Homo sapiens: one gene and its partners. The protein of the gene in region 1 purifies or fractionates together with the protein of each later gene. This does not show direct contact. Each region holds a gene or a part of one and is shown in the gene's direction. Other genes may lie near its edges.

What was found.
Region 2: the proteins of MAP4K4 (region 1) and NCK2 purify together in Homo sapiens (affinity purification with mass spectrometry; 2 studies listed by BioGRID). This does not show direct contact.
Region 3: the proteins of MAP4K4 (region 1) and CBX3 purify together in Homo sapiens (affinity purification with mass spectrometry; one large-scale study listed by BioGRID and IntAct). This does not show direct contact.
Region 4: the proteins of MAP4K4 (region 1) and STRN3 purify together in Homo sapiens (affinity purification with mass spectrometry; 4 studies listed by BioGRID and IntAct, with this or other methods). This does not show direct contact.

Annotation. Positions count from the first base shown.
Region 1 is NC_000002.12:101,868,707-101,872,206, forward strand, and holds part of MAP4K4 (mitogen-activated protein kinase kinase kinase kinase 4), read left to right. Parts: intron 1-915; coding exon 916-1,091; intron 1,092-1,588; coding exon 1,589-1,709; intron 1,710-2,787; coding exon 2,788-2,979; intron 2,980-3,500.
Region 2 is NC_000002.12:105,880,912-105,884,411, forward strand, and holds part of NCK2 (cytoplasmic protein NCK2), read left to right. Parts: intron 1-416; coding exon 417-1,138; intron 1,139-3,500. UniProt on the Homo sapiens protein: Adapter protein which associates with tyrosine-phosphorylated growth factor receptors or their cellular substrates. Maintains low levels of EIF2S1 phosphorylation by promoting its dephosphorylation by PP1.
Region 3 is NC_000007.14:26,204,745-26,208,244, forward strand, and holds part of CBX3 (chromobox protein homolog 3), read left to right. Parts: intron 1-1,623; coding exon 1,624-1,766; intron 1,767-3,500.
Region 4 is NC_000014.9:30,904,380-30,907,879, reverse strand, and holds part of STRN3 (striatin-3), read left to right. Parts: intron 1-835; coding exon 836-1,003; intron 1,004-2,321; coding exon 2,322-2,462; intron 2,463-3,500. UniProt on the Homo sapiens protein: Calmodulin-binding scaffolding protein which is the center of the striatin-interacting phosphatase and kinase (STRIPAK) complexes.

The DNA of each region.
Region 1 (3,500 bases):
CTCAGGGTCGCAGTGTCTCTTCATGTGTCACAGACTTGTCCATGAATGTGGCAGGTTGTGAACAGTCGGTGAAGTGAGATGTCAGTGGCATCCTAGTGCTCACTTCACTCCTTTCATTTTAATGTAGGTTTGAAGTTTTTTTTTTTTCAGTATGAGGTAAAATTCTAGATCAACAAATGTATATACACAGATCCTTGAGCTTTGGTGTAAAGACACATGTCTATATGACAAAGTCTTCTTTAAAGGGGTCAGTCCAGAAAGCAAGCCTCTAGTTAAATAAGCCTGATTTAAAGAGTTTTGGGAGGGAAGTTATGTTTCTACAACTTTTATTAATAAAATATTAAACCTAAAATGTTGATTTTAGTAAAATATTAATATTTATTACTAAAATTTCATAAATATCCTATAACTAGTAAATAAAAACATTAAATATTAAACCTTAGCGCTTTGAAGTTTTTAATAATAAAAGTTGAAGTAAAATAAAAATGTGTCTCTCAAAACCTTTTTTATGAGTCTAAAGAAGACTTTGTCATGTAGGGAGATCTCCTTACAACAAAGTCCAAGAGTCTGTGTATATACATTTGTTGATCTAGAATTTTACCTCATATTAAAAAACAACAGTAATACTATCAGCTTAACATAAGCAGATCTTTTTTTTATTGTCATGGGATTTGAACTGTATATGACATCTTTGACTTTTTTTTGGTGTCTTCTATTTTTTTTTTTTAATCTCTCTCTTGACTTTATTTGGTCTTTTCTATCAAAAGCCATAGGAGCTCACTTTCTCATGAAACTGGGTAACTATAAAAGTCTTACAAAACTGACATTGTGGCAATTTATGGTTAAAGAACTTCTCATCTTCTCCTGTCCCTGCTCCTGCTTGCCTTACTCTCTCTTTTCTGTCCTTTGCTTTAGGATCTGACCGCACTGGCCAAAGAGCTTCGAGCAGTGGAAGATGTACGGCCACCTCACAAAGTAACGGACTACTCCTCATCCAGTGAGGAGTCGGGGACGACGGATGAGGAGGACGACGATGTGGAGCAGGAAGGGGCTGACGAGTCCACCTCAGGACCAGAGGACACCAGAGCAGCGTCAGTCCCCGGTCTCTTTTAGAGCGGATGAGAGTATTCTCTCAGAGCCTGCTTTCCACTGGGACCTAGTTGTTCCTAGACTATTCCGTGACCCCATGAGCACTTACTATGTAGTTCTCGTGGATTCAGCAGCAGGTCGCCTTGTGTTTCCCCTTCTCTTCGTTGGTGTGTGCATATGTCAGTGCTTCCCCCAGCACCCCAGCGTGTACTTTATTTTTTCCTTTTGATTTGAGGATATATGATCCAGGGGAAATTTCAGTTTGGTATAACTACTTTAATTAGCCATAATTATTCATTCTAAGTTTTTGCTCAGAAACAAATGGCACTGGAAAGAAATTCTTTGTTAAAGGGAGAAAGCTAAGCAGTTGCTTTTTTGGAGGAGGCTTTATATCGGTAGCCTCATCTCATGTTTTGATTTTGAGAAGGCGAAAAGCCTAAACAGGATCTCCTTGACTCCAGAGATTAAGGCCTTTCACGTCTGGATTTTTTCTCCATAGGTCATCTCTGAATTTGAGCAATGGTGAAACGGAATCTGTGAAAACCATGATTGTCCATGATGATGTAGAAAGTGAGCCGGCCATGACCCCATCCAAGGAGGGCACTCTAATCGTCCGCCAGGTACCCGTGTCTTCTCTGTTGTCAGAGGCTGAGCTTCTCCTGTGGTCATTAACCCACTTGCTCATTCACTCACTCATGCTGTTTCTCCATCATCATCTGTTTTCATGTTAACAAGTCCCAGAGGGTCAAGTGTCGAGTGTCGGGGGCTAGGGAGGCAGGTGTGTACTGCATGCCCAGAAGGTAGCGAGTAGTCTCCACCCCACATCGCTGCTCCTCTGCATGTCTGCGGCAGCCCTCATTCAAGCACCGCGCTGAGTCTCACAGTCTATGTCTGAGCGGGAGAGAAGCCACAGGGAGTCCTTAAACAGGCTCACAGAGTGAGGAAGCAGGTCTGGAGTCTGGCAGAGCAGCCACCATGGCTCTGCAGAGCACGCTGGGCTCTGAGTGTCTGCAGTGCCACAGTGGGAGCGGGTGAGGCAGGCAGGACGAGCCTCATCACAGGCCCAGAGACTCGGAGAGCAGAAGGGTTCGGGAGGTTTCTCTTCTATGTTCCAAAATGTTAGTTTTCTCACTTGTTGAATAATTAAATGTGTGCCACCCAGATATGCTCAGTTTGGATCACTAAGCTTTATAACTGTCTGTTCATTTCTTAGCTTAGACTTAATTAAAGTGATACGCTTCTCATTTAAATAGAACAGGGCACCTATTTAGTATTTTGGACTTTGCCCTAAGTGTGTTTCATGCTATGGCAATGCATTCGGATGGAAAGTAGGAAGAATGTGGAAAAGACCAGGATTCAGAGAATCCACAGGTACTTTCTGGAGCTTTGCAAAGAAAGATTTAAAAAGAAAAAAAAAAGGATACTGGTTTTGGTAACAGAAGCTAGCGCAACAGATAAACCAGATTAAACACTCACTGCTCGAGCCGTGCAGCCACCAGATTAGGTACTTTGAATTCTGTTGGCACAAGTTAGGCATTTGGTGAGGAAGTGTGAGCAGTTCAGGCTAATTTCTTTGGTTTTTCCTTGGTAATTTAGCAGAGTTTATAAGTCACACAGCACCTTAAAGCAGTTATCAATAGGGCCATAGGCAATTTTAGCAGCGCTTGAGCGAGACAAGTGTGCCTGTTTTTTCTACAGAGTACAGTTGACCAAAAGCGTGCCAGCCATCATGAGAGCAATGGCTTTGCCGGTCGCATTCACCTCTTGCCAGATCTCTTACAGCAAAGCCATTCCTCCTCCACTTCCTCCACCTCCTCCTCCCCATCCTCCAGCCAGCCGACACCCACCATGTCCCCACAGACACCCCAGGACAAGCTCACTGCTAATGAGGTATGTCTCGCACCACAGCTGGCTGCTTTCCTGGGGTTAGACCAGCACTGCCTAGGAGTTAGTTTGCAAAGGAGACCTTTCCAACACCCTCACCCCTTCCCTTCCCACCCTGCTTTCTCTGTCACCTACCCTTCTCCCCAACCCCAAGTAACATGTTTCAGATCTGCATATAAACCCCTTAACCCTAGATCAGCTCCCCCAAACTTGCCAGTTCACTGTTTACTGTTCTGTAGATAAGTATAGTTGCATGGCTTTATCTAGTTTATTTTTTAAAAATCTAAATAAAATGATTGCTCTGTCCTCAGACCGGTATTATGTATTTGGCATGAAATTCTTATAGTCATTTGTGGAATCTGCCTTTTTCATTCTTTTTATCCAATAAATAAAATATAGGAAGATTCGGTTCAGCAGGCTTGGCCTTATCTGGACAAACTTATTATCCTGTACAGGAATCTCTTTCAAACAGAACTGATTTTTTTTTTTTTTCTTGTTTGGGGGGTGGGTTGTTGGCTGATTACTCT
Region 2 (3,500 bases), 4.0 Mb from region 1:
ACAGATGTGCACCACAGGTGGCTAATTTTTTTTTTTTTTTTTTTTTTTTTTTTTTTTGCAGACACGGTCTCGCTATGTTGCTTAGGCTGGTCTCAGACTCCTGGCCTCAAGCAATCTTCCCGCCTGGGCCTCTCAAAGGCTGGGATTCCAGGCGTGAGCCACTGTGCTGGCCCTGTGACATGTTTTTATGGATAAAATAGATCAATTTAATTCTCAACTTTAAGTAACTTCGCAACTACAGGAGGCAGCTGCCAGCAACCGTATTTTTCTCATGGTAATTACAGTTTGTAAGCACTGTCCATGTGTCGTCCCCTTGTATTTAACCGCCAGAGAAACTGCGTGGAAATCCCGGTAGGCTAGGGAGTGTGGTGGTGCCCAAGTGCCCTGCGCCACTGAGCCTTGCTGTGTCTCCACAGGCCTCGGCAAGACGCGCAGGAAGACCAGCGCGCGGGATGCGTCCCCCACGCCCAGCACGGACGCCGAGTACCCCGCCAATGGCAGCGGCGCCGACCGCATCTACGACCTCAACATCCCGGCCTTCGTCAAGTTCGCCTATGTGGCCGAGCGGGAGGATGAGTTGTCCCTGGTGAAGGGGTCGCGCGTCACCGTCATGGAGAAGTGCAGCGACGGTTGGTGGCGGGGCAGCTACAACGGGCAGATCGGCTGGTTCCCCTCCAACTACGTCTTGGAGGAGGTGGACGAGGCGGCTGCGGAGTCCCCAAGCTTCCTGAGCCTGCGCAAGGGCGCCTCGCTGAGCAATGGCCAGGGCTCCCGCGTGCTGCATGTGGTCCAGACGCTGTACCCCTTCAGCTCAGTCACCGAGGAGGAGCTCAACTTCGAGAAGGGGGAGACCATGGAGGTGATTGAGAAGCCGGAGAACGACCCCGAGTGGTGGAAATGCAAAAATGCCCGGGGCCAGGTGGGCCTCGTCCCCAAAAACTACGTGGTGGTCCTCAGTGACGGGCCTGCCCTGCACCCTGCGCACGCCCCACAGATAAGCTACACCGGGCCCTCGTCCAGCGGGCGCTTCGCGGGCAGAGAGTGGTACTACGGGAACGTGACGCGGCACCAGGCCGAGTGCGCCCTCAACGAGCGGGGCGTGGAGGGCGACTTCCTCATTAGGGACAGCGAGTCCTCGGTAAGTGCGCTGCGCCCACAGCTCCGGCTGCAGGCAGTAAATGCGCCTTGCGCGGTGGGTCTGTGTGCCGCGCCCTTTTCACATTGTGTGAGTACACTAGAAAGAGCGGGAGACGCAGATGAATGCAATTTAGTATAATGTTTGCTACTCCGTGATTTACTTGCATCTGTTTTGGGGATAGTGGGTGTCCATTTCTGGAGGTGGGAGATTAACTAAAAAGATGTTTTTAGCTCACAGAGGTGGTTCTGCTTCTCTCCCAAGATTCCCCCTCTTGTATTTCACAGGCTCAAACATCATTTTCTCTCCTGGTTGCCCATTCTGTGTACGTAGAAGGCCCGAGTGATTTACTTTGTTTCTATTCGGTCTGTGTCCCAGAGAAAGCATTCTTTGCAAGACTGGTGGCTGGTTTCTGACACCTCCTTTTGTTGTTTGCTTGCTTTCTCTTTGTAAACCATATAATCCCAAGGTCATTGCCACGGCAGGCAGCGCCACTGAGTTCATCTCTCAAAAGCTTTTAAAGCACTTACGAGATAAATTGAAAAGAAAACAGGGGTTCTTGGGAGAGATGAGTTTTGTTTGTGTGCAGTGAGTCGGAGATATGAGGCCACTCGACTGGGGCAGCAGACCCAGTTCAGCGGTGGGCAGGCTGGGGGCGGTGAGTTTCAGGCATGGGGTCAAGCCTGCATCCCAGAAGGCAGGCTTTTCGTGTGTGAAGGAAATACTCGACCAGTTTTGCAAACGTCTTTCCGAATACACCTTCTACAATCGAGAGACTTCCAAAACAAGCATTTAGGAGATAGAGTTTAATGTATTTGAATTGTATTGGTTCTAGGAGGCTTCAATTTCATTTTTAAATGCACGCTATAAGACTAGTAAGTATGTACTACCTGCTGCCACTGCTGTCCTCTGAAAAGATTACTGGCACAATGAATAAGTGCTCATTCAAGGGTCCTGTTGACTGATCAGAGAGGCATTCAAAGCCCTCCAGAGAGAGGCGACTGGGATGTGCTCTCTTTGAGGACGGAGCATCGTGGTGGTGGAAACTGGACTCCTTTATGGTGTCATCAATTTTGCGGAGCCTTACATGTGCTTGGACGGGAATGCCAGGCTGAAAGCTAACTTCATCTGAAATCTGAACTCTGAGATTTATCAAGTCACCAGAGTTTATCATTCCTGGCAAGACATCACATTGAATTGTTCTCACATGACGAGAGCTCTGTGCACCACTTCTTTTAGATCGTGTTTGAAGCCTTAAGCAAATTAAGGACAGCAGCGCTTTTAACTCAATCGAGCAGAAACTTAGAGAAAGCGCTGGAAAACCAATTACAATATTAAGTGCTTGGTCCAGAGTCCTTAAGGGCTAAGTATAATGCACAAAATATGATCTTGGCTTAAAATTTTTTGAGTTTGAGGAGACTTCTCAGAAGGAAGTCCTGCAGTGTGGAGACATTGGTCCCAGTCATTATTCTTTCTGCCTAAGATTTGGGGAAAAGAGGAAAGACTTTAGAGGGTAGATGAAAAAGGTGTTCTCCGGGGTTGCTGGCCTTAGGGAGGACCTATGGCTTTTCTGTGGAACATGCACAGGTGGTCATTGCTGTCTGAATTCAGGGACCAAGTCCCTTTGGATAAGGAGGGATGCATGCATTGTCTGGGTTTCATCTCAGAACTCTGCACCCCACTGTCTCAGTTGTCTTATATTGTTAGAGAATGAGCTAACTTTTTCTAAAGAACTAAAGCACGAATTGTTTGTATTTCCTTTTAACAGTTTTTTAATGGGGGCCTTTCAGGGTTTTTTGCATTCTCTCCTAACTTAGAAAGTCAAGGAACAACATATATGATTCTAGGAATATAGGGCGGAAAGAGCTTTACTGGGACTTGCATCGGCTCTGCACACATAGCAGCACCGTCTTTGTCTGAGGTTCCACGTGGCCTGATGCTGTGCAGGGCAGCTTGTCCTGATGGATCTTGCCGTGACACGGGCCATTTTCAGCTGTTAGTGTGCATGCCTTGTTCCATGGGGATTCTGCAAGAGCCCTGAGGTGTGTGTGTGGCTTCTTTTCTCCTGACAGCAGAACCATGCCAGGTTTGCTGTATTTCCTGTTCATAACCAAGGCGTTCTCAGCTGTCATCTGTGACTACCAGGGACCTGTCCTGGTGGACAAGTGGACAAGTCCTTTGCTTGTTTTTTTCCCACCATCCACTGCCTCCCCCCGTCCCCATGTGTTTTCCTGCTCATTTTGGCATTTCTCAGGTTAGAGCTGGCTTTCGCAGCCACCACTAGGCCACCAAGAGCCCTTAGGTTCATGATCTGACATAATTCCTTCGCAGCATGCCAGGATGGAAAGGTTTCTGAGGGGTTCAG
Region 3 (3,500 bases), on another chromosome or scaffold:
TTGAGCAATTAAGGTTTATCTTTTTTAAATAGTATTTGGGTTTTTTGTTTTTGTGTTTTTTTGAGACAGAGTTTTTCTCTTGTTGTCCAGGCTAGAGTGCAATGGCGTGATCTTGGCTCACCGCAACTTAAGCCTCCTGGGTTCAAGCAGTTCTCCTGCCTCAGCCTCCCAAGTAGCTGGGATTACAGGCATGCACCACTATGCCTGGCTAATTTTGTATTTTTAGTAGAAACGGGGTTTCTCCATGTTGGTCAGGCTGGTCTCAAACTCCTGACCTCAGATGATCTGCCCACCTCGGCCTCCCAAAGTGCTGGGATTACAGGCATGAGCCACTGCCCCCGGCAATAGCATTTGCTTTAAGATGAAATGTTAAGATGGATTCCTTCTCAGCCCATAGGATCTTCTGATTAACCATTTCAGGGTTTTTTTTCCCCCATTTTTAATCCTCTCATAAAAATTTTCCCCATTTTTAGTCCTCTCATAGGAAATCTTGAGCCATTGGAAAGAGCTGGTTCACGTTGGTTTCCTGCTTCTCTTAAATAGTGTCATACCAAAGAAAATGCCTGTTTAAAGTGAATTTGGTTACCAGTATAGACTTTCTCTTGAGAAACCAGGAAGGAAGGATTTTTTTCACCTTAGGGAATTAAAATAAATTTGTAATGTTGGTCTCTTGAAGTGATAGCTTTATAGTTTTGTTCTAAGTGGTAGGAAATATTATCTACAGAGATTATGGAAAAATAATCTTGTCCTTTAATTGAACCTCCTAGTGGTCTCTATAGTTGACCCTGCAGTTGGTATCAGGATTTTGAACCATGTTTTCATTCTGCATTTATCTTTTCTCTGTATCATTGATGCTTTTGACATTAATATTTGAATTGAGAAGGGGGCTGGGGCTTTTACCATCTGGGGGTGGATACAAGGTCTGTCATAGGTTCACCTAAGACCTGTCACTACTACTTGCTTCTCTGTATCACCCTTTAGGTACTTCCTGCATAGTTGTTTGTTGCAGTGTTGTTAAAATGAGTGAAAATTAGTAAACTTGGTCTTTTAAGACTACAGGGCCGGGCGCAGTGGCTCACGCCTGTAATGCCAGCACTTTGGGAGGCCCAGGCTGGTGAATCACTTCAGGTCAGGAGTTTGAGACCAGCCTGGTCAACATGGTGAAACCCTGTTTCTAATAAAAACACAAAAAAAATTAGCCCGGCATGGTGGCATCCGCCTATAATCCCAGCTACTCTGGAGGCTGAGGCATGAGAACTGCTTGAACCTGGGGAGGCGGAGGTTGCAGTGAGCTGAGATCACGCCACTGCACTCCAGCCTGGGCGACAAGAGTGTGAGACCCTGTCTCAAAAAAAAAGACTGGAAAAAAATAACTGTTTCCAGATAGTGTTTTTTTATTGTATTATTTTGGTGGTGGGTTGTAAGTTTGAACTAAATGAACAAGATAAAGCATTCTTTTATTTTATTGTCTGTTGACTTTTAATCTTTCCAGAAGGTGTCTGCCCTGGGATATAGAAGTAAAAATTTATGTCGAATGTGATAATAATATAAGCAATTGAGCCTTGAAAATGTGCTCAAAATTCAAGAGGAATATTTCTTAATTTCTCTTTTGTTTTATTTTAGCAAAAAATGGGAAAAAAACAGAATGGAAAGAGTAAAAAAGTTGAAGAGGCAGAGCCTGAAGAATTTGTCGTGGAAAAAGTACTAGATCGACGTGTAGTGAATGGGAAAGTGGAATATTTCCTGAAGTGGAAGGGATTTACAGAGTAAGAAACTTTAGTGCATCTTTACTATATGTTTAACTGCAGCTAAGTGGTTTTAGAATTTGTTTTTAACCTGGCTCTTTTACCTGCTTTCCTGTAGGTGTCTTTAAATGTAAAGACACTTTGAATTTTAGGTGTCTCATTTGAGGTCTATTTCAAAAGAACCAAGACTTTATTGTACAGTTGAAGGTGAGCAGACTAGAGACTAGTTTATTACCCTGGGGAGTCAAATTTATAAAATTATGGAGTGTAGTTTACTATGTAATATATTTTAATGTGGTTAGATATTACACTAATTAGAATAATCTGCATTATTTTCCTCCACACAGAGGGTGCTAAAAACATTGAAGCTTTACAATATAGACTAGTGGGTCTCATACAGGATTACATATAATCTAGGCTTTATACTAGGTTTATTATATCCTTATACCTAAGAAGTAGAACCTGGGCATGTTTTAAGCTCTCTGGTTCCTTGTGTTCTTTGATATGGATTGCTCTCATTATTCTTGATAATGTTATTCACAAAATGTGAATAACTTGAACATGCAACAATTACATACTTTAACGCTTGGGGTTTGTTGTGCTTATCTGCTTTGATTCTTCCCCCTTACACCACAAAGCTCCATAGGCAGTGACAATTAAAAATGGATAGGTGGAGATCAATTTCCTGAGCACGCTGGAGATGGAGCATATGATAGTCGAATGATTGGGCTTCACCTATCTGTTATCTCCTACTTCCCCTGCTCTTCACATTTAATTCATAGCAGTTTGGGAATTATGAATTGAATGGGAGATTTACGTTTGCCTGTTTTATCCTTCAGTATTCTTAGTTTAAATTAAGTATGTGTCGTAAGTCCCTTCTTTATTAAGCCCATGAAACATGAAAAATTATTTTTACCCATCAAAACATTAGGAAATGAATGGGCTCCTCCCTCTTCTCCCAAAACTTAAGGCCACTAGCATGATTATAGCGTACTTCCCATGTGCAGTGTAACAGGTAATGTAAAAGACTTTTTTTTGTTTTGTTTTGAGATGGAGTCTCACCCTGTTGCCCAGGCTGGAGTGCAGTGGCGTGATCTCAGCTCACTGCAACCTCTGCCTTCCGAGTTGAGGCGATTTTCCTGCCTCAGCCTCCTGAGTAGCTGGGACTACAGGCGCCTGCCACTATGCCCGGCTAATTTTTGTATTTTAGCAGAGACCGGGTTTCACCATGTTGGTCAGGCTGATCCCAAACTCCTGACCTCAAGTGATCCACCTGCCTTGGCCTCCCAAAGTGCTGGGATTACAGGTGTGAGCCACCGTGCCAGGCCAAAGAAGACTTTAATGAAAATAATACTACAGAGCAGAGACTTTTATTGTCCTCTACCCAGTAATTTGGGTTTACTAATTTGGAGTCTCAGGGTAGCAAATTAGAATATAGGGCCTGGGTGCAGTGGCTCACACCTGTAATTCCAGCACTTTGGGGGTCCAAGGCTGGAGGATCACTTGACACCAGGAATTCAAGACCAGCCTGGCCAACAAAATGAGACCCCTTCTCTATTAAAAAAAAAAAAAAAGTGTGTGTTTTAAGTTAGCTGGGCATGGTGGTGCATGCCTGTAGTCCCAGCTACTTGGGCTGAGGTGGAGGATCGCTTGAGTCGGGAGTTGGAATCTTCAGTGAGCTATGATTCCACTACTGCACTCTCGTCTGGGCAACAAAGCAAGACCCTGTCTCTGGCGGAGGCAGGCTGGGGGGTG
Region 4 (3,500 bases), on another chromosome or scaffold:
GAGTTTACTAGAAAAACAGGATTGTCAGACAAATTATGCTCAATGTTATCAGCTGTCAAATGTCTGTCAGTTAAGGAACAGATAAATAAAATATGGTATATCCATACAGCAGAATATTATTTGGCACTAAAAATAAATGGAGTACTGATACATGCTCCAACATGGATAAACCTTGAAAACATGTTCAGTGACCAGGAGTTCAAGGCTGCAGTGGACTGTGACCATGCCACTGTACTCCAGCCTGGGTGATAGAGCAAGACCCTATTTCAAAAAGAAAAAAAGAAAACATACTCAGTGAAAGAACCCAGTCACAAAAGACCACATATTGTATGATTCCATTTATAGAAAATGTTCAGAAAGACACATCTATAGAGACAGAGCATTAGTTGTTGCCTAGACTTGTGGAAAGGTGGGGAGGAGGAATTGGGGGAAGTGACTAATGAGTGATGAAAGTACCCTAAAATTGATTGTCATGATGGTTGTATAACTCTGTGAACAACATACCAAAAATCATTGAAGTATACACTTTAAATGAGAGAGTTGTATGGTATGTAAATTATATCTGTATCTCAAGAAAGCTGTTTTAAAAAAAAAAAAAAGCATATGTTTCTTTATAGAAAATTGTGAAAATACAGAAAAATGTTGATGGGAGGAGGGTATAAAAGTAGGCCATAACTCTACTCTTAGATATAGCCACTATGTACACTTTAGTTTATCTTCTTGTGGCCTTTATGTGTGTTCTTTATGCTCAGTTATATGGTAAGTTTTCTTTATGTATCAAAGTTTCTTTTAAACTTCTTTTACCTAATTTTTTGTTTGTTTGTTTTTTCCCCAGAGCCAAATGTTCTAGCTGGCACTTTAGTTGGTCATACAGATGCAGTTTGGGGTCTTGCTTATAGTGGCATAAAAAATCAATTACTGTCTTGTTCAGCAGATGGCACTGTTAGGTTATGGAATCCACAAGAAAAATTGCCATGTATTTGCACTTACAATGGAGATAAAAGTAAGTAAATTTTGCATCTGTGAGAAAAGTTAGTTTTTTTAAAAAATTGGAATATATAAAGGACAAAGTAATTGATGTATTTCTTTACTGTTCCAAAGAGATATATTGAATGAATTTTGTAAAAGTTAGGATAAACTTTTTACTCATTTTTTTGAAGTGCTTTGCAACTATGTCCTGTAGTGCAATGCTTTTTTACCTTTTTTGTATTCCATTTTTTAAAAATGTAAAACTATTGTATATAACAGTGGAATAGACAAATGAGGATACTCATAGGGACAACAGGAGGCACACCACCTGTTCCAGACGACTACCCCACAAAGACCGAAGGGATCACAGTCTCAAGCATACCTATAAACCCTGTGTTCCATTACCTCGAGCACACTAGTTGAGTAGTCCAGCCATAGTCACTGAACCCCTAACTGGAACAGTACAAATTGGGTTATTTTCATGATTTTAAATATTTTCCTATTTAAAAAGGCTTTAACCAGTTTACCTTTTGAAGACATTTACTGGTCTTATTTTCCAAGTCATTTTAAATTTTTTTAATTAGACCTTTTATTTGTACATAAAAATACATATTGTTTTAAAACATTTTAGGTGAATAGTAAATATATAATTTTGTGTCTCTTAGACACCGTAGTGATTGTACTAATTTTCAGTTATCCAAGCTTTAGAGGTAAGAATTCATTTAGGTATTTGTTTCTGGCTTCATCTAGATAGTTAATAGCTTGGCTCCATATTCCATCTAATTGTGCATTGATCTGGCTAGTTTAATTTAGTATGTTAAAGAGAGAAATTGCTGCTCAGGCCATTTTAGGGTAAAGTACTGCATCAGCTGATTCCAGAGTCCAAGCCATTTTCATGAGTCCAAAAATCTGACTTGTATTAGCTGCTTGATAAGGCCTACAGATCTCTGATAGGTGAACCAGTCTCCCAAAGTTATGTGAGAATGCTAATTTATCATTTTACAGTAAGAAGTATAATTGGCAAATTGGCCAAAAGACTAGGATTTTATTTAATCCCTTAGAAGAAAACGTGTAATAGAACAAATAACTTTTGCATGTATTTACTCTTTATGAGCTCTGTAGTTATATTTTTCTTACAATATTAAATAGAATGCTATAAAGTTTTTAAATAATTGAGGAAAAGATATTTCTTATCTCACCATCCTGACACAGTTGTGTTCCTTTTCATTATTAACAGTATTTCAAGACTATTTGAATTCCTTTTTCTGATTAGAAAAACAGAGATTTCAAAAAGTAGAGATTTCATAGTAATTTTACTTTGTTTACATTGTCTGTCTTTGGGCTCATTTCAGAGCATGGAATACCTACATCAGTTGACTTTATAGGCTGTGATCCAGCTCATATGGTAACCTCTTTCAACACTGGTAGTGCAGTAATTTATGATTTAGAAACATCACAGTCATTGGTGATACTTTCATCACAGGTAGATTCTGGTAAGTTTTCATGGAGTTTCTTTGAAACCTTAAAAAGGGTTATTACACAATAGAGGGTGATCTTTTAGCTAATTTTCATATTTTCACTATTTGAATTTAGGATGGCAAAATAATTAGTTTCATAATGTTACAGTTATACTTATTTATATTATGTCTGCTTTTTCTTCAAATTTTGCTTAAAAGCTTGGGTGGACATATGGGAAAAGAGGAATGTCTAGAGCAATATGAAGGTGAAAGTAGAGAAAATAACATAATGAACTTAATGTACTCAGCATTCAGTTTTAATACCTATCTATAAATGCCCAGTATTACACATGCATTATGTGGTGTTTTACAGTTTATTTAGATAGGGATCACATAAGATTTATGTATTGCAGTTGTTTGATAGGTCTCTCAGGTCTCTCTTCATCCATAGATTCCCCTTCATCTCTTTTATGTTCTTTTTTTTTTTTTTTTAATTGACGAAATTGGCTACTTTGTCTTGTCAAGTTTCCGACAGTCTGGATTTTGCTAGTTGCATTCCTGTGTTATTTAATGTGCTTCTCTATTTCTATTCACAGTTCTCCTGTGAATTGATTATAGATCTAAAGACTTATTCAAATTCAGGTTCACTGTTTTTTTCTTTTAAAAATTTTTAAATGTTCTTGGCAACTTTACTTCATAAGTAATTTGTAAGCTTTTATCAGAGGTGAGTATTTTCTGGTTGTTCATGTTTTTGTGATGTTTTCAGTCTGGATTATTTCCTGGGTTCATTCATTTTCTATTGAAAGATTTTCTAATTTTATCATTCCCTCTCCATTTATTAGCTAGATTATTCCTATAAAAAAGAACATCTCTTTATCAACAATTTGGTTACCTTGGAGTTAGTGTGTATTAAGGAAAAAGGCAAGATAAATGATTGGGTTTTGGTTTTCCCCTTTATTTACCAGTTTTTAAAATAATGAGTTGGTTTGCTAGCACCCTCTAAAGGTGACCAGTTTGTCTTGGGTGGTGTTTTTGGTATCATCATACTCTCTCATGGATATAAATGTATTTGAT